5 separate regions of the Homo sapiens genome follow, and regions 1, 2, 4 and 5 are each linked to region 3. The links come from fine-mapping of genetic effects on gene expression. A gene starts in region 3. Each other region holds a variant in brackets. All regions are shown on one strand. Distances are from middle to middle.

The links. PIP is the estimated chance that this variant, and not a neighbour inherited with it, causes the effect.
Region 1: its variant is fine-mapped to the expression of SDCBP2 in transverse colon (CEDAR, PIP 0.95).
Region 2: its variant is fine-mapped to the expression of SDCBP2 in sigmoid colon (GTEx, PIP 0.98).
Region 4: its variant is fine-mapped to the expression of SDCBP2 in whole blood (GTEx, PIP 0.97).
Region 5: its variant is fine-mapped to the expression of SDCBP2 in esophagus mucosa (GTEx, PIP above 0.99).

What each region holds. Positions count from the first base shown.
Region 1 is chr20:1,034,831-1,039,933 of GRCh38, forward strand. No RefSeq gene overlaps it. Among named protein-coding and RNA genes, the nearest start is that of RSPO4, 35 kb to the left of the region's middle. The variant T/C (reference allele first, on the strand shown) is at 2,844.
Region 2 is chr20:396,834-401,936 of GRCh38, forward strand. It overlaps TRIB3 (tribbles pseudokinase 3), which reads left to right. Exons shown (of 4, transcript NM_021158.5): 4 at 1-726. Among named protein-coding and RNA genes, the nearest start is that of RBCK1, 8.9 kb to the right of the region's middle. RefSeq lists an enhancer at 2,169-2,669. The variant TCTTCTG/T (reference allele first, on the strand shown) is at 2,257.
Region 3 is chr20:1,326,088-1,331,190 of GRCh38, forward strand. It overlaps SDCBP2 (syndecan binding protein 2), which reads right to left and starts at 3,052. Exons shown (of 9, transcript NM_080489.5): 1 at 2,998-3,052. All of the region lies in intron 2 of FKBP1A-SDCBP2 (FKBP1A-SDCBP2 readthrough (NMD candidate)), which reads right to left. The region is part of intron 1 of SDCBP2-AS1 (SDCBP2 antisense RNA 1); the gene reads left to right.
Region 4 is chr20:1,386,275-1,391,377 of GRCh38, forward strand. All of the region lies in intron 2 of FKBP1A (FKBP prolyl isomerase 1A), which reads right to left. All of the region lies in intron 2 of FKBP1A-SDCBP2 (FKBP1A-SDCBP2 readthrough (NMD candidate)), which reads right to left. Among named protein-coding and RNA genes, the nearest start is that of MIR6869, 4.1 kb to the right of the region's middle. RefSeq lists an enhancer at 4,867-5,103. The variant G/A (reference allele first, on the strand shown) is at 2,512.
Region 5 is chr20:1,379,848-1,384,950 of GRCh38, forward strand. All of the region lies in intron 2 of FKBP1A (FKBP prolyl isomerase 1A), which reads right to left. The region is part of intron 2 of FKBP1A-SDCBP2 (FKBP1A-SDCBP2 readthrough (NMD candidate)); the gene reads right to left. Among named protein-coding and RNA genes, the nearest start is that of MIR6869, 11 kb to the right of the region's middle. The variant C/A (reference allele first, on the strand shown) is at 3,036.

The sequences.
Region 1 (5,103 bases), 290 kb before region 3:
TCATTGGGAAGTGGCAGGCATTCTGGGACAGAAAAAACTTGGGGTCATTTGTGCAATCTACTGCACAGATTTTTAATCTCTGGTTTCTTACTCTCTGTTCCTTCCAGAGAGCTTCTTGTTCACATTTTACTGCTGCAATATCTTTATCACTCAAGGGATATTAATTGTAGGATTTATTTTAAGTTTTCTCTTGTTCCCTGGATTCTTTTCTTGAAGACCTTTTACCCCGCCCTCATGGTTTGCTTTGATCTCTGCACTTCATGATAGAAATTTCTAATGATCCTTGGCTGTCTACTCACATTACCACTCTGGCTGGAAACTGGGTGGGGAGGGTGGACTGGTAGGCTTTTGTGTAGGGTCCATGCAGGGTGGTTGCATAGGGCTGGTGCAAAGGGGCTGGTTGGCTTTTTCTGTGATGCACTCTCCTCCCACCCCCAATTACCGTATCTTTAGGTCTTTGTCCTGGAAGTGGTTCTCCAGATAATTTTCTGCCTGGGGTTGGACATTCTAGAATGAGACGGGTGAAGGGGGCTGAAGATCTCACCTTCTCTGGGCCTGATGTTTCTAGTTTTGGAGTTTCTTTGTTGCCTTTTTTTCAGAGAATAAACCTCCCTTTGCTTGCCCAGAAGTGAGTGGGGTTACTACCTGGCTGGGCAGGATGGGGGTTGGGGACGTGGAGGTCCCATGCTCCTTGTACAGATTGCTTTCAATCCCCACTTCACCAGCAGCTCCTCCAAGACCTAGTAGCTTCAATTTTTGAGGCCTTTAGGCAAATTGGCTTGTTTCTCTATGCAGCAATCCACCCACACAGCAGTCACCTACCCCATCCATTTAGCTTTGACTTTCTTCCTCTCGGTTATGTCACTGGCCACTTCATCCATTTCCCTCCTTTGTAGTTCAGGGTTACAAATGTCTCTCGATTTCCTCAAAGACAGAGTTTTTGTTTCTGCTCCTTATTCTTGTTTTGGGGAAGTTTTTTGTTTGTTTTTTTCTTTTTTAAGAAGAGAAAAGGAATAGAAATGTCTTTAGTCTACTATCTTAAAGCCACCATTTCATTAGAGTTTTAAATGGAAAAAGCACCCTCTTATATTGGACAGAAGTGTGTCAGCAATGTGGGTTTTGTGACTCTTACTGGAGTAAGAGCCTACATTATACGCCAAGGTGGCTTCATGTTCTAGTTTTACAAATGCATTTGATACAGTTAATAAAATAGCAAATTATGTATTAAGGAGAATACAGATAAGTCATTGCTGGCTTGGCAGAGAGTGGAGAGCAGCCTTGACCAAAAAGCTTAGAGGAGGAAAAGTGGGGTGGAGGCATGAGGTTGACCTGTCCCTGCTAAGTGCCACTGTTTTCAGCTCACCCCTTTCCACCTGCAGGTCCCTGCTCAGATGCCACCTCCTTGGAGGATCCCCACCCACCTGTCACTTTCTCTCTACTAACTTGTTTTATGTCTGACTGCCTGCCAATGGATTTGATTGACTTATTTATCTTTAGGTTTGTCGACCCCACTAGATCATGGGCTCCATGACCAGGGGGAGCTTTGCTTTTTCACCTCCATACACTCGGTGCCTGTGAGCACCTGGTACATCAGTAGATGCTCAATAAAGAGTTGTTGAGTGAACAAATGAATGAGCCAGTGATTGCGTGGATCCATGTTTTCTATGAGAAGGCAGAGCTCTGAGGACAGACAGAGGCCCAGTGTGCATGAGAAAGTCCTGCTGGCCCAGGCAGTGGCCTAAGAGCTGCCTACCATGGCGGTCACTGTTCTTGGGGAACCACAGATGTTTCCCCTCTAATCCCTCCATGGGGACCAGGGGGGCATGAGAATGGGAGAGAACACAAAGTCCCTTTATTCAGGGGAGTGGATTCCATCTCAAGACAAATTGTTACCTCCAAGGCCACCAGCCGCCCAGCCGGCCCATCACCATGGCCTCCCTCTTAAGGATGTGGGCACAGGCCCGGCCAGAGCTGAAATTGCCCTGGAAACTAGTCTCCCCTTTAATTAACAGGGAGGGCGACCAGGCCTGCTAACGGGGTGGGGTATGGAGTCGGGGTGGGGTCAAGTTCATAAAGTCCCCAAAGAATCAAGGCCTCCTTGTTTATTTTCCCGAAAATGTTCCCCATTACCCAGAACAGCATAGGGGCCAAGCAGGCCGCAGGCAGGGAAAAAGCTTTAACCTCCCCGCTGCTCAGCTCAGCACATCACTATTTGACTTGCATTTTAAAAATAATTACAAACTTAATGAAAAAATAACCTAACCCCCAAACAGGCCAGGGACTCATGGCCAGCATTGGCAGGAGCAAGCCCCTGGCAGCTGTGAGGATGAGATGCAAAGGGTATAGAGGAACCACTGGAAGACAGGGGACACCCTTTAGATGGACACTCCCTCTCTCTAGCGCCAGCTTTGGCTCCCTATTGCCCTTTGTGTCATGCCCAAATGTCTCAGCCCATGTCTTAGAGCCAGTTTTACTCAGGCCCTATGTGGAAGACACTGGAACCCAAAGAGGAAAGGAAGTTGCTCAGGTTGTGCATTGTGTGGGACCTGATGCAGGTAGTGAGGCTGGTTGGGATGGGTTCTCGGGGAAAGAGTGGAGGAAAGTGAGAATGTGTCTCTGTTACCATCTGAGCCCTGGCTGGGTATGGCCAACATGCCAGGTAAGCAGCCTTGGGAAGCAGGCACGATGATTATCCATCTTTAATATCCCAGGACTTGAGTCCAGGTCTGTCGGGCTTTTAGCCACCACACTAAGTGCTGTAAAAGGAGCTGGAGGTAGAAATGAAGTAACAACAATAATAATAATAAGCAGCTTTCATGGATTGTAGACTATGTGCCGTGCAC[T/C]GTGCCAAGCTCTTTACCATCTCTTTTAATCTTTGCAATAACTTTATCTGGTAGGTAGTGTTATTGACCCATTTTACAAACGACGCCCAGAGCATTGGTTCAAGGTTGTGCAGCTGGGAAATGGCCTGTACTCTTCTACCCTGAGAATAATGCTCTACAGTGAGTCAGGGAGTCTTGTGAGGTCTCAAGAACAGGGACCTTGTCTGTCTTATTCACTTGTGTGTCCTCAGAGCCCAGAAGAGAGACTGGCATATAATAGATATTTAATATCTGTGTTGTGAATAAGAATGAACAAATGCACCTGGACCTAGAAGTAACTTCCGATGAACCATCCCAGTTCTCCCTTCCCCATTCCGGATTATCTTTACTTACCTGGAAGTGAACAAGATATTAAGGGGCTCCAAAAGAACTGAGAAATAGAACTTGGTTTGAAAGACAGTAGGGAGCCACAGCAGGTCCTTCAGGAATGGAGTTCCAAGCTAGGGGAGTGATGGTCTTCCTGTGTCTTTATGGATTCCAGGAGCTAGTCAAGGTCAATGAGCCTTTAGCCAGAAGGTCAAGTTATCCCCAGTGGTAAGTGTTGGGGGAAGAGGAGGGCACTTCTCAGGAGTTGAGGGTCCCAAACTTGTCATGCTCATTGGTTTTGTGGCTGAGAGTGGCAGGTTCAGGCTGGCCAGCCAGCCTCTTCAGCTTGCCCATGGTAAATCCCATGATCCTGGGTCAAGGACGCCCAAACATGGTATGTCCATAGCCAGCTGACAGAATTCGTATGTCATTGAATCTTTCAACAATGGATTCTTTGAAACTTACAACTCTGGGGCCTTTGAGGTCCATCTCAGATTCTGAGGCTGTAGAAACTGTTCATTTTAGAATAATGATAGGTACAAAACATTTACTGAGTACTTACTACTCCAGACATTGTTTACAAATATCAACGCCTTTAATCCTCACAACCACCCCAGAAGGTAGTAACAATGTGACCCCCCACTTCACAGATGTGAAGACGGAGGCACTGAAAGGTGTAACTTGCCCAGGGTCACTGGCCGCCTGGCTCTAAAGCACACAGCACTGCCTCACAGACACTTAAAGTCGTTGAGACTTACACTCTTCAAATTTTAGAATCGTAGAAAGTCACAAGGTCAGGATCTTCAAGCCACAGAGTCTTAAAATCATAGCACTTTAGAACCTGCCATCATTGACTCATCAAATTCTGCCGTCATAAAATCTGGGCATGTTATAATCCTGGAATTCCAGATTCTTGGGGACTTTTAAGTCAGAGAAGTTTAGATCCTGGGATATTAGGCTTGGATTACAGACCCTAGCCCAGTCCTCTCATATAGCACAGGGAAACTGAGGCCCACAGAAGTGACAGAAGTCCAAGAGAGGCAGAGCCTGGTGGATTCAGTGTCATGTTTGGAGGGAGAAATCGGAGTGAACAAAGAAAGCCCCTGGGCAGGCAGGAATCTGTTTGTGATTAGCAGTGGGTTTTAGTGTTGCCGAGGAATGTACCCAACGTTACCGTTACCCCCGCAGGTTGCTGCCTCCTTTCTTCCCCCTCAGATGCCCTCCTCAGAGCCCATCCTGGCCAGACTCAATATCCTGTTTCTACCACCAGCAAATTGAATTTTCAGAAGTTGGCCTCCTAACGAAGCCAGCTTAATACGTTGGAGGTTTTCTTTGCCTGCATTGCTATTTCTTGGTAGGATGCCTGCTCTTCAGGAGCCCAGAGAGGTTTTGCACACTCAAATCACAACGCCAGGAGGGATGAGGGACAGGAACTATGGGACAGGTGGCTGGGGGCTTAGATAGACCCAGAGGTGGGAATAGAAATGGCGTGTCTCAAGGGGGAGGTGACAGGTCCACAGGGACCTCCGTACTGCTCAGGCCACACCTGGGAATTTGGGGGCCTTCAGTCTTTCAGAAACATTAACCAAATGGGGTTTGTTTAGAGGAGGGATGGGGAGAGATGGGTGGGAATCCCATGCTCTGGGAGACCTTGAGCGTGGACTAGATGGAAAGAAGCATGAATTCTAAAGTTCAGCCTCTCAGCTACTGCCCCCTTGAAGACAGACATGGGTGGAGCCCTGGGGTATAGACCTAAGATTGAATGGTGGAAACTCCATGAAGATTTTGGTTTTATCAAAATCAGTGGTTCTCAGGCTGGGCATGGTGGCTCACACCTGTAATCCTGAGGCGGGCAGGTCACTTGAGATCAGGAGTTCAAGACCAGCCTGGCCAACATGGTGAAACCCCATCTCTA
Region 2 (5,103 bases), 930 kb before region 3:
ACACATCTGCTTTGTTCCACACACATGCAGTTCCTGCTTGGGTGCTTATCAGGTGCCAAGCCCTGTTCTCGGTGCTGGGAGTACAGCAGTGAGCAAAGGAGACAATATTCCCTGCTCACAGAGATGACAAACTGGCATCCTTGAGCTGACAACACTTTTCCATGACCATAGGTCACTGTCTACACTGGGTACACTTTGTACCAGTGTCGGCCTCCACTGATGCTGGTGCTCAGGCACCTCTGTCCAAGGACAATCCCTTTCACAAACAAACCAGCTGCCTTTGTATCTTGTACCTTTTCAGAGAAAGGGAGGTATCCCTGTGCCAAAGGCTCCAGGCCTCTCCCCTGCAACTCAGGACCCAAGCCCAGCTCACTCTGGGAACTGTGTTCCCAGCATCTCTGTCCTCTTGATTAAGAGATTCTCCTTCCAGGCCTAAGCCTGGGATTTGGGCCAGAGATAAGAATCCAAACTATGAGGCTAGTTCTTGTCTAACTCAAGACTGTTCTGGAATGAGGGTCCAGGCCTGTCAACCATGGGGCTTCTGACCTGAGCACCAAGGTTGAGGGACAGGATTAGGCAGGGTCTGTCCTGTGGCCACCTGGAAAGTCCCAGGTGGGACTCTTCTGGGGACACTTGGGGTCCACAATCCCAGGTCCATACTCTAGGTTTTGGATACCATGAGTATGTATGTTTACCTGTGCCTAATAAAGGAGAATTATGAAATAATTTTATTTTTCTCTGCAATTTCTTCCATCCTTTCCAACGATCTCTTACCAGTTTTTCCTGCCTTCAAAACTGGCCCCCATGGTGAAAGGCCGTAGAGTTGTGTCTTAACCTGGGCTGAGTGGTTTGTGAGAACAGATTACCTGGAGCCCAGTGGGTCTTCCTGCACTCCTTCTGTTTCTTCTGGCAGCAGCAGTGTCTCTATTAGGGTACTTTCTGAGTCAAAATGGCTTCAACAAGATGGAAATATGTTTCACACAAAACAAGAAGTCAGCAGATAGGGTGGGCTTCAGTGCTGGTCCATTCAACTCCCAAAGCTGCGCACAGGGACCCCGGCTCTCCAGGCTCCTTCTGTCTCTTGGCTGTATTGTCTCGAGACTGCTGGCCCAATGGCTACAGCAGGTGTCACATTAAAGAGGTCCATGACCAGAGGAAGAAGCCAGGGGTCATTGTAGTACCTGAGAACTCAGAACTCTGGAGTCAGGCTGCCTGGAATTAAATCCTGGCTCCAGCACTCAATAGCTGTTTGACCCTTGGCAAGTTTCTTAACCACTCTATGCCTCAGATTCTTCATCTGTGAAATGGGGGACAATGATAGTACCTAACTTATGAGAACTAAATGACTTATTTTGTATAAAGCAATTAGAACAAGCAGCGCCTGGCATAATAAGCCCACAATAAAAGTTACTCCCGGCTGGGCACGGTGGCTCACGCCTGTAATCCCAGCACTTTGGGAGGCCGAGGTGGGCAGATCACAAGGTCAGGAGTTCAAGACCAACCTGACCAACATGGTGAAACCCCGTCTCTACTAAAAATACAAAAATTTTTAGTAGAGACGGGGCGTGGTGGTGCGTGCCTGTAGTCCCAGCTACTCGGGAGGCTGAGGCAGGAGAATTGCTTGAACCCGGGAGGTGGACGTTGCAGTGAGCCAAGATCCCGCCACTGCACTCAGCCTGGGCAAGAGAGCGAGACTCCGTCTCGAAAAAAAAAAAAATGGTGCTCCCACATTTCTTTCTTGGGATGGAGGAAGCTTTCCCAGAAGCGCTCCTGACCGACTTTCCCACACATCTCACTGGTCAGAACTGCATCACTTGCCGTTTCTGACCAATCACCAGCTTACATTCATGGGGCACGTGCTTACACTAACCATGGCACTCCTCGAGCTAAGTGGAGCTCATGCGTCATATGGAGGGGTAGTGACTCCTGAGCAAAACCAGGTTCAAAGAGGGAGGGGATCGTAGGGAAAAGAATGTGCGGAAGTGCGGAGGCCCAGCCAACAGCCTGCTAACTGCAGATACTCGAGAGCGGCCACCCTAGATCATCTGACCCAGGCTGGCCCACGCTAGAATTGCCCAGTGACCCGCAAGGTCATGAGCTAATTGAGCTAAATAAAATCATTGTGTTTTTTTGTTTGTTTGTTTTGTTTTTGTTGTTTTGTTTTTTGAGACAGAGTCTCACTCTGTCACCCAGGCTGGAGTGCAGTGGTGCGATCTTGGCTCACTGCAACCTCTGCCTCCCGGGTTTTCAAACGAT[TCTTCTG/T]CTTCTGCCTCAGCCTCCCGAGTAGCTGGGATTACAGGCACGCGCCACTACACCCGGCTAATTTTTATATTTTTAGTAGAGACGGGGGTTTCGCCATGTTGGCCAGGCTGGTCTCCAACTCCTGACCTCAGGTGATAGGCCCACCTCGGCCACCCAAAGTGCTGGTATTACAGGCGTGAGCCGCCGCACCCGGCCAATCATTGTGGTTTTAAGTCACTAAGTTTGAGGCTATTTTGTTTTACAGCAAAAGCTAACTGATGCAGACAGGGACAAGTCAGTCTCATCTCTGTGCACCCAGCATTGCCCAGAACAGGGCCTAGTTGTGTCTAGGGTCTCATGGGGCAGCCCCTGACCTCTATCTTGCCCCTCCCAGCTTCCAACAGACCCTGTCCCAGCTCCCTCCAAGCTGAGTGTTGGCCTGATACCTACCAGTGGAGCGAGGGGAACACGAGGACTGCCAAGGGCAGGTACCGTGCCAACCCTTCACTCCATTCCACAAAGAGACTCATTTACTCCTCATGACAATCCAGTGAGGCAGATGTTCCTGTCACTTTACAGATAAGACAAATGAGCTTTAGAGAGAGCAGAAGACTCATCCAAGACCTCACAACAGAGAAAAAGACTCCTCTGGTTTTTGCCTTGGAGCAGGAACTTTTGACAAGGCTGCGCAGATGCAGCCACATGAAAACCGCCCATTAAAAATGTAATATCGGCCCGGAGCGGGGGCTCACGCCTGTAATCCCAGCACTTTGGGAGGCCGAGGCAGGCAGATCACTTGAGGTCAGGAGTTGAAGACCAGCCTGGCCAACATGGTGAAACCCCGTCTCTACTAAAAATACAAAAAATAGCCAGGCGTGGTGGCATGGGCCTGTAATCCCAGCTACTCGGGAGGCTGAGGCAGGAGAATCACTTGAACCCAGGAGGCAGAGATTGCAGTGAGTCAAGATTGCACCACTGCACTCCAGCCTGAGCGACAGAGCAAGACTCTGTCTCAAAATAATAATAAAATGTAATATTCACTCTTATCAAATAATGGATGTCACCACACCCCGACCCTAATTAGTGAGGACTTTCATGTTCTACTTGTCTTCATTTAATCATCATTGTATAAGAGTTTTACAATATCAAATTAGTAGATGTATATTACTGAAAGGGAAGGACTGTTAGAAATTTACTTGAGGAATGTCTGCCACTGGGGGCTGAACACAAAAGATCCTATTGTGACCTGCCAGATTATTCATTCACTTAGCAATTCAACAACCATCGCTGAATGCCTACTATAGGCCAGGTGCCATGCAAGACAGATGTGCTCCCACCCTCAAGGGTTCACAGTCTAATAGAGGAGAGAGATGTTAAACAGATAACTGTACAGATGGCATAGCTAATTATATTCGTGGAAGTTCGTTGTGGCAAAGACAGGCATCTCAATATTTCAGGAGCTCCCCTATATTTTCTAGCCTCCCTTACAGTCACATGACTAGTTCTGACCAGTGGGGTGTGTGTAGGAGTGGCAGGCTGAAGCAATGGAGAGCTGGTGAGCCTCATCCCTCTCTTCCCCTGCCACAGCCACCTTGCGCCCACAAGTTCCCTTAGCTACAAGCTGGAGGAGAGCCACCAGATCCACCTTAGATTTCACTGAGCAAGAAATAAAGCTTCTTGTGTTAAGTCTTTCAGATTTGGAGTTTGTCTGGTAGATAGTGTTAATTACCATGACTAAGGAAAATTTGCCATTAGTGAAGGGAGGAAAAATATTCTCCACCAGTAACAAGGCCATGTCAGTCTGCTGCATTATAAACCCCAAACAGTAGTTTATGATCCTCTGGGCTGGCAATTTGGGCTGAATTCAGCTGGGTCACTCCTGCAGCTGCAGGCAGCAAGCAGCTCGAATGTCTACCTTGCCAGGAAGGCTCTTCTCTGCTCCACATGGCCTCGTCCTCCAATAGGCATAGCCTACTCCTTCCTATGGTGGTCTCAGGGTTTCAGAAAGCAACAAGAGAGGACAAATTCCAGTGTTCAAGCTGCACTAGTGTCAAAGCATATCAAATAGCATGTCAAATTCCACATCAAATTCAGGATGCAGGCAAATTGATTCTTTCTCTTGATGGGAAGAGCTGAAAATAATGTGTGGTCTTGTTTTTCAATGTACAGTGGTCCCATTTATCCAGGGGGGATACATTCCAAGACCCCCAGTGGATGCCTGAAACCACAGATAGTACAGAATTCTGTATATACCATGTTTTTTACTATACATACATACCTACGATAAGGTTTAATTTGTAAATTAAACTCTTACAAATTAAGAGTTAACAACAGCTGGGCACAGTGGCTCACGCCTGTAATCCCAGCACTTTGGGAGGCCGAGGTGGGCGGATCACGAGGTCAAGAGATCGAGACCATCATGACCAACATGGTGAAACTCCGTCTCTACTAAAAATACAAAAATTATCTGGGTGTAGTGGCGCATGCCTGTAATCCCAGCTACTTGGGAGGCTGAGGCAGGAGAATCATTTGAACCCGGGAGGCGGAGGTTGCAGTGAGCTGAGATCGCGCCACTGCACTCCAGCCTGGTGACAGAGCGAGACTCCACCTCAAAAAAAAAAAAAAAACAAAAAAAACAAACAGTTAACAATAAATAGAACAGTTATAACAGTATGTTGTAATAAAAGTTATGCGAATGTGGTCTCTCCCTCAAAATGTCCTATTGTACTGTACTCACCCTTCTTGTGATGATGGGAGATAATAAAATGCCTACATGATGAGATGAAGGTAAATGAATGACATGGGCATTGTGATCTAGCGTTAGACTACTACTCACCTGATGATACGTCAGAAGGAGAATCA
Region 3 (5,103 bases):
GAAGGAAGAAGACCCTGACTGGGCCGTGTAGGATGGATGTTCAAGTGGGAAGAGAGTGTGCTATTCCAGGGACAGGGAGGCCCAGGCCTGAGAGTCCAGTTGCCTTCTGGATCCCGTTTACCTCGCAGATTATCCAAACTGGACTCGTGATTTTCCCCAGCTGTGCCGCGCCTCCCCAGCGGTCTCACTGAATCCACCCATGGGCTATGTCAGAAATCTGGGAGTTATCCTCAGCTCCTCCCTTTCCCTTCTGAAGCCATACCTACTTCTTGCCCTCAAATCTCTGTGACCTGACTTCTGGTAATGTTTCCATTCTCACCATCTCATTCTTCTCCACACTTATCATGAAGTTCATTTATTCCAGACTACTTTAGGTTGAGTCCTAAAAGTCAGCCTGCTAGTTCATGCCTCCATGCTTTTGCAGGTGCTATTCCCTCTGTCTTAAGAGTCATTCATGCCTTCTCTCTTTTCCTTGTTGTGAACTCTTTTTCCTCCAATTTAAAGCTTTCCCCCACCTGTACGCATGGAGATTGGCAAGCCTCCCTTCTCTAGACGACAGCATTTCTTGTATTTGCCTCTTCATCATATATTCCACAAGTGTTTGTTAATCACCTACTATGAGCAAGGCCTTCTGCATTTCCTAGGTTGGATTTCCACTGTGCTGTGTTTGTTTGCTCATCTCCCTCACTGGTCAGGAAATGTCACTCATTTGTTAACCCCCAGTGCTGAGCACAGTGCCTGGCACACAACAGGCATCCCATTACTATTTCTGAAAGGAGTGGAAAAGCAGGCACAGAGAGAAGAGAAAGCCTGATATCCTAAATATACAGTCTTTCTTCCCATGCCTGTCTGTGTTTGCAGTCAATAAGTAGAAAGTCTTTCGAAGAATAACCTGGGCCTGGAAAAGGAGAGAAACCATGGCCCTAACGAGTTAGGTTGAAAGGCTGCCTGGCTCCTATAATCTGACAGTGGAAGTTTGCTCAGTTCTGTGCTGATGGCTTCCCACAAGTAATTGGTTCCTCCGAAAGGAAAAGAACCCACCTAACCCCTCTCTCTCAGAGGAATTTTCCTCTCCCACAGCCCTTTCCAGATTTCCATCCCTGAGCTTCTGTACTTTTTGATATAAGCAATAACAACACCCACAACAAACCAATAGCTGGGCTTCGGAGATCAGCAGGGCTGACAAGGGGACTTCAGCCCCCATCTTTGAACTTAGAGTGAGAACACTCTTTGGAACACTTTGTTCCAAAGAGCTGAAGTGATGGAACTCCCACTCGTTCCTGTGGACAGCTCATCCGTCCTTTACAAGACAGTGCGCGGGAGGGAAGCGTGGGTTAGAGTGTCAGAGGAATAGCTCCTGGAAGGCCAAATTAGCCCAGGGATGTGGTGAGTCGGAATAGAAGAAGCTGTTGCTAGGCCACCAGCATGTACCCCCACTCCTCCTCTCAGTGCTGCACTGCCTGCTGGGGAAAAGCTGTGACTTCCTCAAGCAGACACGCCTGAACCCAGGCCCAGGCAGGGCAGGGTTCAGACTGACTGCTTCTGACTTGTGAGAGCACAGCATAGGCAAATCCCCTTTGAATGTCATTTCTTCCTTTGTAATCTGGATAACAATAGTTGCATCACAGTTGTCTGGAGACTGAAAGATTTTTAAAAAGAGTTAAGGTGTATATGGAAAGCATTTAGCACAGCACCTAGCACATAATAGGCATTCAGTAAAAGTTAGCTGTTTATTCATTGTTTCAGCGCTTACTTACTCAGCACCTGCTAAGTCTGAGTACTGTTCTAGGTATCAGCAGTGAAGGAAAGAAGACTTGGTCCCCAAATGTACTTTCTTTGGGGGAAGAGCTGGATAAATAGGCTTTGTGACTCTGTGTGCTGTGTTAGATGGTGGGAGGCACTGGAGAGAAAGAGCAGGACGGAGGGTCATGTCAGGAGGTTCAGAAGCCTTGCTGGCTGGGTGGGGTGACATTTGAGGAAAGGCCTAATGGGGTGGGCACGGCCATTGCAGAGCCTCTCAGGTGGGAGTTGGTGTTGTGTTTAGAGGACATCTGCCAGTGAGAAGCCAGTTGTGCAGAGAGGGAGTAAGGAGGAGTAGTGGGGAGGAAGCTGGAGAAGTGAGAGGGGCCAGATCCTGGAGGGCCTGGAGGTCATGGTGAGGACTTTGGCATTTACTGTAGTGAGATGGGAGCCACTGGGGGATTTGTAGCAGCAGAGTGCCAAGGTCCAAGGGTTATTTTGACAGGCCTCCTCTGGCTGATGTTTGGAGGATGGGCTACAGGGCAGGAGTGGGAGCAGGAGCCCAGGTGGGAAGTGATGGTGGTGGAATTGTCATGAGCTTGGGCCACTGTACGTGAAGCTGCCTGTCCAGTGCTCGCCCAGCCCATACCAGGCTCGTTTTCTGCCCCATTTTCTGAGACCCTGCTGAGGAGGGCATGCACTGGCTCCTGTGTCCAGTATGTCCTTCCATTCTCCTGACTTTGTGGGCTATTTTCAGTCTCCAGATGAAGAAACCAGTTCTTAGAAAGGTGAAGCCCCTGGCGCAGTTCCCCAGCAGGTGTTTCAGTGCTGTGGCAGGAAGGTTTTTTGATAGAAACAGCCTCAGGCCAGAGAAGTCGGCCTGAGCTGTGGATTCCTTGGGAGAAATGGGCTTTTTGCCTGCCTGCAGCCTCTGGTTTCGGCTGGAATTGGCCTTTCAAGGAGCAAAGTGTGGATCTCATCTCCTTGAGCACAGTCATGGGCAGTCAGAAGGCATCGGGGGCCCTCATGATGTCTGGGTGAAGAAAATCACTCAGCCCTTAATCAAACTTGGTCCAGGGCTGGGATCAGAAGAAGAAACCCCACTTCACACTTGACTGCTTGGAGTGAAGCACTTCGAAAGGAAGCTGCCTGGGAAGTCCCAGAAGGGAAGGGGCAGGGAGGGAAGGGGACAGGGTGAGAGCAGGTCTCACTCATCCCAATCCCAGCCAGGATTGGGTCAGGGCCCCCAGCGCTTACCTGCAGGCAAGGTGCTGCTCCACGACCTTCTCCAGCTGCTGCCGCTGCTGAATCTGTTTCCCTCCCTGAAACGTAGCCCTGTCTCTCAGCTGGCTTCCTGATCTGGGAAGGGTGGTGCCTGTCCCCTGTTCAGCTGACTCACCTTGGACTGGGATGGGCACAGGTGAGGGCTGTGGCTGGGTAAACAAGGCAGGTTGCCAGCCCAGAGGAGGCCTTTGGCCTTAGTCTGGATTTGGAGGTGGGATTAAGGCCCTCACAGCTGCTGTTCAGACGGTTATGAACCAAGACTTCTTGGCCTTTTCTTAAATAGCTCTAAATTTGGGTTGGACACCTAGTCCTGCTGATCGAGGCAGTTGGCTAGAGGGCGGTTTGTGATAGGTATCTAGGGGTCTAGGCCAGGATATTAAAAAGTGGTCATATCCTGTGACCCAGCATTTCTTCTAGGAATTTGTTACAGTGGAGTCACAGGGCCCATCCATCACTGCTGCTTCTAGTAAGGAAAATGTAGAAATCCCAAATGCCCATCTCTGTGGTCTGCTTGAATAAATCATTGTCTGTGGAAGATCACAGAGCTATTAAAGTCACTTAAGGAAGAAGGTATGAGGAAACATTTCTGAGATTCTAGTGAGATGTTGAAAAATCAATATTGTGAATCTCTTCTTGCATTTTGTTTTCATTTTTTGTAAAGTGGATGTGCGTTGAAAGCAGTCTAGGAGGACATACGCTAAAATGCTGAGTATCTCTGAATGGCAGCATTGAGGGTGAGGTTTTCAGTTTGTACTTTTGTGTGTTCCAAGGTGGTTTTTTTTTTTTTAAGTTAGCTTTTGCTCTGAATGCTCATGACTTTTGTAAGGGGGAAGCAATTAAGTTTGATTATTTTAATGGGAATTTAGAGTGGTTGTCTCTTGGGAGCAGACCTAAGGAGCTGTGTGCTGAGGTGGAGATTTTTTTTTTTATGGCACATTTTTGGTGTCTTAAATTTTGAAAAGTTTAAATGTACTACTTATTCCAAAAATAATTATATAAATTTGAACAGAAAAGGAGGAAGAATTTAGTTTAGATCCTGGTGGGTTTGGTTGGGTGAGGGTGCCTGTCGCACTGGGTGCCTGGGGAGGGACGAGGGACTCGTGTGCTGGGCAGTCCCATGAGGATTGACGCTGTACACACTCAGGGTGTGTCAGTATCTGGGCTGCTTCCTGGGCCAGGCAGGCCTACGTCACAGTTCCCATGACCCACCTGGCAGAGTTGCACTAGCCTTGGGTGTCAGATCTTGTGCCTGCCAATGAAGAGCTTACAGCCCAGAGTCCCACACAGGAAACACACAATAGGAATAATAACAAGAAAGACATTTGCCACTAATTCAGCACTTACTCCCAGAGAGCACAGAGATTCTACCCCTGGCACTTTAAAGGCATTATCTCAATGGCTTCTCATGCCATCCCTGCAGAGTAGGTGTGACTCACACCATTCCTCCAGGTGGGGACACTGAGGCACAGAGGCAAAGTTTCTCTCTCAAGTTAGCTGGAAAGTGGGCCAAGTTCATGTCTTCTCTTCTATGGGACATACTGTTTCAGAAAGCTGAGGTGTGGGGCAACCTCAGAGTAAGCTGTGTGGGCCTGAAGCTGAGGTAACGTGGGTGATGGACCCACCTTAGGTCAGGTGTCCAAGGCCAAAGCAAAGTGGAAAATAGAGATCCTAACTAAACCAAGCCACTCCTCCCCCACCTCACTTCATTCAGTCATGACCTGAAAGGGCCTTTATAGAAGAGGGAGGAGGAAGCAGGCCCTTCCAGGTAAGGGGCTTGCCTGTGGTCCCAGCATGTCAGCATGGAGCCCAGGTCCCCTAACTCCCACCTATTTAATACCTACAGGGACTCTCTTTCTATTCCCTCTTTGGATAGTTGCCACCCATCACTGACTTCCAGCCACCTGGAAATATCTTTCATTGGGCATGCCCTTGCTCGAACTCTTCAGTGGCTCCCTCCTGCTTCAGGGTCTGGGCTAAACTCCCAGGGCTGACATGGAGACCTCCACAGCCCACTCCCTTTATTACCTCCTCAGCACTCCCCCAGCACCTCTGCCTCAGCTGGACTGGGAGCCCCACCAT
Region 4 (5,103 bases), 60 kb after region 3:
TAACTGACCACTCCCTACAGGGTAAGCTTCTTGAGGGCAACATTGAGGCTTTGCCCAGCTCCTTATATATTCACTGAGTGACCGAGGGAATGCCAGGTCCTAACTGGCCACTCATTCAAACAGTCACTGAATAGCTACTCTATGCCAAGACTGATGGGGAGACCTTGGAGAACAACACTAGTGTGGGTCTGGCCTCCTGGAGCCTTCAGTCGGTTGGGGAAAGAGCAGATGTTTAACTACACGGATCCTGACTATGATGGGGGCTAAGAAAATAGATGGGTGCATTGTTGCAGAATTAGAAGCATGCATGTATGCATCCAAAGTGTTACTTAAGCTGTGCTATAAAGAAAAGAGCCTGTCATGCAGTGGGGAGTGGGGGCAGTGTGGTGGCACCTAAGCAAAGGGGCAGAGACCTCCATGTGGGAAAAGGCTTGGAGCATTCGAGGAATGAATGCAGGCCAAGGTGGCTTGAGCTCCTGGGAGAGGAAGAGCAAATGTAACAGAAAGAGACAGTAGCATCTAAGAACTGGTTATTTCTACCTCCCCGACTTTCTGCACTGCTAGAATACACCTGGTCAAAATCAAAGGGGTCCAGGGGAGGGAATGCAGAGACTTGGTTAAGCTTTTTAGCAGGAAAAGAAAACAAAAAAACAGAAGAAAAAATAGAAGTAAAAATAAACAAATGTCACCATGAGCACCAAAGGGAGAACTGAATGCTATGTGATTAAGTTATTCATAACCTTGGCTTCTTCCATGGGAAACAGCAGGTGACAATATTTTTAGAGAAAATTCCAAGGCAGACAAATGATTTCCAGTTTATGGATACAATAAACCCCTCAGTAATTCATAAAAATCAGTTTAAGCCTAAAAATGTTCTAGTTAAAACATCTATGAGTAAATAGGTGAATTTATGGTATGTAAATTATATTCAATAAAGCTGTTACCAAGAAAAAAAAAGGTCATGGACCCCACTGAAAGGAACCAGAGCTCTTTGAAAGATGGCTGATAATTGGACCAGAGTAGTGAAACCGAGAAATGGATGAAGGAATGGTGGGAGCCTGTCAAAAAGGTACTGGAGCCAGCTTAAAGGGCTCCTACTGGCCAAATTTAGGATGATATTAGCATCAAAAAGAATAATGGGTATCATTGATCTTAAGGCCCTGACAAAAAATTTCAGCCCACAGTACAGTCAAAGCAAATAGAGGGGGAAAAAGTCACTTGCCCCCACTGGGAATGGCAATACCCCATCAGTTAACATTCATTTTTCATTTTAAAAATTGGTAATTAAAGGCTGGGCACGGTGGCTCATGCCTGTACTACCAGCACTTTGGGAGGCTAAGGAGGGTGGATCACTTGAGGCCAGGAGTTTGAGACTAGCCTGGGAAACCTGGCGAAACCCGTCTCTACAAAAAATACAAAAATTAGGACAGGTGGCATGCACCTGTATGCCCAACTATTCAGAAGGCCGGATGGGAGGCCGGGATGGGAGTCTGGGAGGTCGAGGCTACAGTGAGCCATGATCAAGCCACTGCACTCCAGCCTGAGTGACAGAGACACTGTCTCAAAAAATAAAAATAAAATTTGGTATTTAAAGGTAAAGAATTACTTTACCTTATCTTATAGAAGGATAACAGCTAATAAATTTAGAAAGAATGAAGGAATTTTAAAAATCAACACTTTGTGAATGCCAGTGACTTCTTCAGGGGAGAATGATCAGATGGTGTAAACACCACTAGGTGAAAGGCTGATGAGCAAGAGACCATCTATGGCTACCTAAGCACTCCACAGATCACTGCTAAATGCAAAGGGAAAAATGTACCTTTACAGAAAAGATCAAATTTAGCATCACAACTAGTGATGTTTCCCATGTGTGCTGAGGATGAAGTACTCACACTAAAATGTTTAAACGGAATCTATTCAGACACTTAAAAGATTAAACATCCGGTTCAGAAAATCAAGGCAGGGAACAAGTTAAACAATACCATGAGAAAACAGTAAGACAGATGTGGAGTATTCTATAACTAGCCTGCTCTCTTTGAAGAAATCAGAGTTATTAAGAAAAAAACAGCGTAAGGACTCTTCTAGACTGAGATTACAGACATAACAACTGCGATGAGTGAGGCTCAATGGAACTGTGGTTTTAAAAAAGAGCAACACTTTGGAGACAACTGGGTAGTCTCGATAGGCATTTGCTTCACAGCAGGCATCGTTACTCCCATTTTATAGACAGCATGTGGAAGCTGGGAACTGTGGGACAATTTGTTCAAGCTCTCATAGCCCGTTGTATGGCAGGGTCAAGATCAGAACACAGCGAAGAACCCACATGCTCTTTGGGGATCACTGTCCACCTGGCACCACTTCTGCCCACTGCCTGAGCTGGCACTCCACACACCTGGGATACAACCAGTGTCCTGTTTCTGCCTTTGCCCCCAAAAGCCCATTGTCCACACAGTAGCCAGAAGGAGCGTGGGTTGGGGGGGCGGGGGCGGGCATTAAAAGCCAAGCCAGCCA[G/A]TGGCTCTCACCTGAGTTAGAAAAAGGCAACGTTTTTATAAAAACCAACGAGGCTCCACCATCCCCTCATCTCCTGCCACATACCCTTTCACACAATCCACTTCCTGTTCCTCTAACGCACCGGTCTTCTTACTGTTCCTCTAATGCACCGAGCAGGCTCCAGCCTCAGGGTCCTGCACTAGCTCTTCCCTCTGCCTGGATACTCTAGACAGCCCTGTAGCTCCCTCTCCAATGTCCTTTGAGTGAATGTTAAAATGCCATTTTTTTCAGAGGCCTTTTCCAATCACCCTCACGAAAAGCAGCCAACTTCCCTTCCCATCCCTCACTCTGCTTTAATCTCTCCAGCGCTTCTTACTACCTGATGTGCTCCATGGCCATACTATCAGTCTCCTCATCATAAGCAAAGCCCCACCAGATCAGGTCTTTGTCTATTTAGTTCACTAGCCATGTCCCTAGAGCCTGGCTTGCTGCTGTTGCTCAAAAAACATCTGCTGTGGGAAGGCAAAGGGACTTGTTGCAGCCCTGCCCAACAGTTACAGCCTGTGTGCCTCAAGACAGCACACGTCAGGGGAAGCCATCTGAGGCATCTCTGCTGAGGGTGAGCCTCCCTCCAGACATCAGATCACCAACCAAGAGATACCTAGCAAGGGAGTGGATGGAATAAAGCAGAGGAGAGGGGGGAACAAAGCTAAGGAAAAGCAAGGGGCTTGAGGGAGGCTGCAGCAAAGTGGCCACACCTGTCCCGGGAGCCTCAGCAGCCTTCCCAGTCAACCTCCTGAGGACATGAGGTTGAGGGGCTCCTGGTTTTTCTCAGTCAGAAACCGGGAGGCTATACCTGACTTAAACCTGATCCCAAGGACAAAATGTCCAGTTAGTTACTTTTTAAGAAGAAAAAAGAAAACATTCCTTCAATCCCCTTGGGGCTGCTCTCACAATGGCAGGCACACGGCCTGCTGAAGTAAGTAAAAGAGGTCTAAACCTAGCTGTGTGCCAGGACAAGCTAACAGTAAAGATGACGAAGCTACTGGAGGCAGCAGGGAGGCGCCATGAGAATTCCCTGGCTCCTAAAGGCACTTACTTGGCAGCTTACCTTTCCACCACCTCCCTCCCACCTCAATGCCTGTCATGCTCCTAGGAGATGCTTAGCTGGTGATAGTGAACTTTGTATTTTCCCTCTGGTACCACAGAGGTAGTGCAGGCATTCCTTTGAGGCCTTGCTCATGCTGTGCTCTGCCAGAAGGTCACGGAAGTCACCAGAGGGACCCTTGAGAGTGACATCAAGGTGACTGACAGCCATTAGTGGCATTTAAAGCATCCATGTGGTAAAGGTCAGTCTGTGCTCTGCACACCTGTGATGGCTAAGGGGAGATTTTGGCCACCTTACTTCCACCCCTCTTTCTCTGGACCCGTGCCCAAATCAGCTGAGTGGACACCTGGCAAGAGCTGACTGGATCAAGAGTGTTCACCTTACTCAAACTCTCCTTCTCAGAGAAGTAACAATCAGAATCACAGCCAAGAAATCTGAGCCAGATACTCAAAAGAAGACAGAGAAGCTGGCCATGGGGAGGGGGGAGGGGGGAGGGGGGACGGGGGAGCATGCAGGGGACTTCCACCACCCACCAGTTGGGAGAAGCAGACAAACACAAATCTCTAACAGGAGACTACTGAGGCAGTCAGGCAGGAAACAAAACAAAACACAAAACAACAACCAAAAAACAGAGATGAGAACTAGAGGCATCATGATTATTTCTTTTCCCTTCTTAGGACCCAGTGGGCTTCTGCCTTTGAAAACCCCTGGAACCTTTATAACCTCCACCTTCTGATCATGTTCCCCCAAGATGGATTCTGTTCCCAGTGACTTAAAAGCCTTAACTGCTACAGATGAGATCTCCCAGTGCCTACCCACTCCTCTCACGCCCCCACAGGTCTCAAACAGGTTATTCCTGGGAGGCTGGTGACAAAGACCCACGGGAACAAAGCCACCAGCCTGCTCGAAAACAGTCTATTCTGTGAGCATGAGGCAGAGCTGGCTTCTCACTAAGGCGTCTTTATAGGGCTTATCAAAACGAAATCAAAAAGAAAGCTTTTGTCCTAATGCATGCCAGGGTCCTGCTGCTGCTCTGGAAACATGTGGGTGCGTGCCACCCGCGAGAAAAACACACACTTCAAGAGGCACTGGAAACCCTGATGGTGTTCTGGGTCTCATGACCATCTGTTCTCATAGGAAAAGGCTCCAGACATGCTGTGTGGGGATATTTCACAAAGAGACATGGTGAAGTGCGGCACTGCCTACATGCTGGGGTCCAGTCCTGTTGGCAGCACCAGAACATGGGCGAGCATGAGGGGCAGACGTGGGAGTGGGACACATGCTGCCAAGCACCCTAGTGTGGCTATGTACAAGCTAGGGTGGGGAGGGGGTGCGGCAGAAGGCAGCTCCTCACGGCTTGAGTCCCAATCTTTGCCCCAGTTGGCTGCGGAACTGAATGAACTGCCCACTCACCCCAGCACTGTAAATGGTTACTCTCCTCATCCTTCCGATGACAAATCACCAAAAGGATGCGCTTTCATCTACCAGACCTCCCAGGCTCAGGT
Region 5 (5,103 bases), 54 kb after region 3:
GGAGGGCTTCCCCAGTGGGGAGGAACAGGCCACTTATCTATGGCCCTAAGTTGTCAGCCTGGGGGAGAAGGTGGAAGCAGTGTTTGTTAAGCTGGAATGAGTGTGCATGTGTAGGAATTATGCTGTTCAGTCTGTAATGTCAAAACAGATAGTGAGAACTTCCATTTCTGGTCACGGTGGAGGACAAGGATCAGATTTGTTCATGAAACAACCAACAACCAACCAACCAACCCCTTCCTCCCTACAAAAAGTCCACTAAAACCTAAAAACCACCTAGACAAAATAGCTACAACGATGGTTTGTAGGACACCAGACATCTGTAATGAAGAACAATAAATCCTGAGACATGGGAAACAAGGGCAGCCCTATATCCTTGGGAGTTTCCAGGGAGAGGGACCTGGAGTGGAGCTCAAGGCACCTAGAGTCCATAGGACACAGTACCAGCAGGAGAGAGCTATACAGAGATCCCCAGAGATCTGCAGGGTCCTCTTTGAGTATTCAGCAGAGTCCCTCTCAGTGCATGTATCTGAGCAAACTATTCAAGGCCAGGAAAAGAACTATCCAAAAGGCTTAGAGGAACAGTATCCAGTGCTCACACAGGGCTAGGATTAGTGCTTACTACCCCCCGGTCAAACTGGAGAAGCTCATGATTGACAAAGCACTGGGCAGAATACTCAGGAAGATCTTGCCTATAGTAGGAAATAATCAGCCCTAAACTGAGCTCTAGACCTACCTAACAAATCACAAAAGCAAGACTCGCAAGCATCAAACTGTTTCCGGGTAACTTAAATGCTTCTCAGTATAAAACTCAGGAAAATTTATAGGAATAAAAATATCCAGCACCCCAAAAGGCAAAATTCACAATGTCTGGCATCCAAAGATTACCAGGCATGCAAAGAGGCAGAAAACAGGACCCACAATGAGGAGACTTATCAATCAATTGAAAGCAACCCAGAACTAACACAAATGTTAGAATTAGTAGAGGAGAACCATAAGACTCCAACTTTCAGAGATGAAAACTACAATGTCTGAGATGAAAATTACATTGGGCTGAAATGACAAAATATCCACACATAACACAGTAAAAACTTCACACCATTATCAAGCATTAACTCAAAATGGATCCTAGACCTAAATGTTAAGTACTAAACCTATCAAATTTATAGAAGAAAACATAGGAAAGAAATCTTTGTGACCTCGAGTTGGGTGAAGATTTCTTAGTATGATGTCAAAAAGCACTATCTATAAAAGAATAAATTGAACTTCATCAAAATAAATTCAGTACTTTAAAAAGCACTGTTAAGAAAATGAAAGACAAACCATACACTGGGAGAAAACTTTTGCAAAGTACATATCTGATAGAGGACTTATATCCAGAATATAACAAACCAAAATTCAACAATTAAGAAAACCAATAAAAAAGGGCTAAAGATTTGAACAGATACTTCATTGAAAAAGACAGAGGGCAGGTAAGCATATGAAAAGATGCTAAACATTCCTAGTTATTATAACAACGCAAATTAAAACCACTAGGAAACGCATCTACCACCACTGATTAGAATGAGTAAAGCTAAAAAGACTGACCACGTCAGGTGTTAGTGAGGATGTGAAGGAACTGGTATTCTCATACACTGCTAGTGGGAATATAACATAAAGCTTCAGAAAACAGCTTGATAGTTAAGTTAAACATACACCTCCCATATGACCCAGCCATTCTGATCTTGAGTATTTATCCAAGAGAAATGACAGGCTATGTCCACAGAAAAACTTGTACACAAATGTTCAAAGCAGATTTATTAGCGATAGTCAAAAACTATAAACTAACCCAAACATCCACCAACGGGTAAGTTGGTAAATACATGTTTCTATATATAGAAAAATATTTAGCAACAAAAAGGAACAAACAATTGATACATGGGACAATACAGATGAATCTCAAAATAATTATACCAAGTGAAAGAAGGCAGACATAAGAGAACGTACTGTATGATTCCATTTATATAAAACTTTAGAAAATGCAACAAATCTACACTGACAAAAAAGCATATCAGTAGTTGTTAGAGGAGGGTAAGGAGGGGTGAATTCAAAGGGAAACAATGACACATCAAAATTTATGAAGCTGTACATTTTTAAAATGTGCAGTATATTGGATTTCAATCACGCCTCAGTAACTTTTTTAAAAAAGGAAAAGAAAAAGAGTAGGCAGTGGCATTTACTAAAATGCTATATATGTTTAGCTCCCACATACACACTGGCAATGAATGAAAAGTGCTTCCTCTCTTTGGGGAGGGAACAGGTAAAGCAGGCAGCAAGTCAAGTCTCAGCAGCTGCTCCAATTTTAACTCTGGAGATCACTTGTGCCAGGAGCTGGAGCCCTTGAACAGTGAAACCACCTGCCAAGTTAGTGCCATAATTTCCTAAAGAAAGCGTGCCCTGCTCAGAGAAGGCAACTGAGGTTACAGTGCAGACAAGACAGCTGACAGTCTTTAAGCTCTAAAGGCCACTCAGCATAAAACATCACAAGCATTGCCTTCTAATTGCAGAACTGACCAATTTCATTCCTGGCCGTACAAGCCTATAACTCATGCCTAACAAACTGCCTGGAATAGCTCCATATTCTTATTTTAAGTATTTAGTCTTGGCTCTCCTGACTGAATGCAGCCCAAGCTCACAGACCTGGCCTGCGTTCTGTGTCCTGGTGGCACGTATGGTGCTGGTACTCAAGAGCACTCTTGGATTTGCTTTACTTGCATGATTTTTAAGAACCAGAAGGACAAGCATGAGGCCTTCATATTTAGACCTTCTTCCCTATATGGTAACAAGAATATGAGGGGTAATCCCAGAATGGTAAACTTTACTTTAAGCACCTTTAGTTACTAATCAGTAAGAAAAATGTGAAAATGTGCTCCAGTTAAAAGCACAAGACCATGAAAGAAGCCAAAGCTATGACTGACTGCATGCAGAGGCTGTTGACGTCATCTTCGCCTGGGTCTCCTCCTGAACTGAAATCCTTGGAAAGGGAGCAAAAGGGTTTA[C/A]AAAACAAGACGGTGCAGAGAGTCTCAAGTCTGTCTACTCCACAGCAGCCTGCTCTTTCCTGTTGCTTTTCAAGGAATCAGCAGAGGGAGACCTGGCCAGCAGCTCCTGGGCAGCAAAGTATCCCCAGACTGTGTTCCTGGTGGTTGGCTCAAGCCACTGAAGCGGTGGTTAAGACTCAAGACCAGGACCTGGAGATTCACAAGGACCACTGGGATACTATTTCACTAATAACCCAATAGAAATGGAGTCACTTCCAAGGCACTCTGCTTTGGGGAAGGGCAGAGTGCCATATACCTTCTACTGGGTAACAGGACTGAAGAAGGCACCTCTACAGACTTATGGCTTCACTACTTGTAGTGAAAGCTCATGACTCACAATGCAGTTTATAGTTGCTCATGAATCTTTGCAGGAGTGTTTCCTATAGGCAGCATTTTACAGGGACAAAATATGGGAAGTTTTAAGATTAAAAAAAAAAAAATGACTAAACTAAACCAAAAATCAAACATAACAAAAAACCAGAATATCCTAAGCCCCAAACCTTCAAAATAAAATAAAGTCCTTGCCATTTACAGTTTGGAGAGGGAAAAGGATTTCTACTTTCAACACGCAGGTGAGTTTCTTAATGACAAAAAGTACAATGAGGCCAGCTGCGGAGGAGGCTCATGCCTGTAATCCCAGTGCTTTGGAAGGCCAAGGCAGGAGAATCACTTGAGGCCAGGAGTTTGAGACTGGCATGAGTTTGCAACCAGCCTGGGCAACACAGCAAGACTCATGTCCCCAATCCTGTTTCTGCAAAAAATTAAAAAAAAAAAAAAAAAAATTTAGCCAGACATGGTCCTAGCTACTTGAGTGGATCAAGTGGGAGATCACTTGAGCCCAGAGGTTTGAGGTTGCAGTGAGCTATGACCGCACAAGTACACTCCAGACTGGGCAACAGAACGAGACTCTGTCTCTTAAAAAAAAAAAAAAAGGTGTAATGGTTGAATGGGTGGAGGTAGGGGGAGCCAGTATTTTTCTGCAGCTTTGCATTTGAAGCCACTCAGAACATTCCCAGATGGGCGTATGGCTCAAGGTCTAATGGTTTAGCTGTTTGCTTTCCCTCTTCTTATTAGACACAGAAGTTCTCTTAACCACCTTTTACTCAGCTGCCTTACTTGGAGACTCATAAAACTCACAGCCTTCGTACCCCAGCATAGTGAAGAGCACTCCCCTCATGCTTTAGTCTCTAGCTCATGATCACTTCTTCATTCCCATATGAGTTCTGTGTTCACAAAGGGAGGAGTGGTTAGCTGTGTTTGTCCCCAAATCCATTTATGGTAGCTATATTTACTGTGTAAATATAATGTAATTAAATAGTATGTAAATCAATAAAATGAGTGTGAATACAAACAGCGGTTCTAGCTGACTCCTGGGAAAGACTCAATAAAGGCAAGTCACTAAAAAACTATTGCTAGTGAATAATCATATGGGAGACTACATTTAGAGAAAGAAATCTTAAAAATCTGGAAAGGTTTGGTTTTTAAATGTTCTCACAATACTCTTTGCTCTACTTTAAAAAAGGTCAAATTGGTTTTTGCAAGAACTATGATGGGAAACTCCACTAGCAGAGCCATCCTCAAAGATAAAGACATAGTCCTTTAGCAAATGATTTATGTTAGAGTTTGAAATCAAATGTTTACAGAAGCCATGTCACTTTTATGTTAGCATACCAACTACCCACTTGTCTCAATCATGATGGGTAAAAAGGGATTCTACATTTAGATAGGCAAAAGATACAAATTCAAATCTTACATTCTTATTATTCCATTTCTGGGTCTCTGTGGCTGTATTCCAGCACAACCTCCCTGAAGTGGGGTTCTGAGAACTCCTTATGAGTGAGGGGTATGACCAAAGGTCCAAGTGCCAACCCAAAGAGGGAACCAGCTCACTCTCACTATCATTTTCCTGAGATCACCAACAGTGCAAGCACATTTCCCATACGCAGTATGGAAATGCTTCTAACCTTTGGCTAAATCCCTTTAGATCCTATAACCAAAAGTGTATTTTCAAAGGCAGGGCCCATGATGG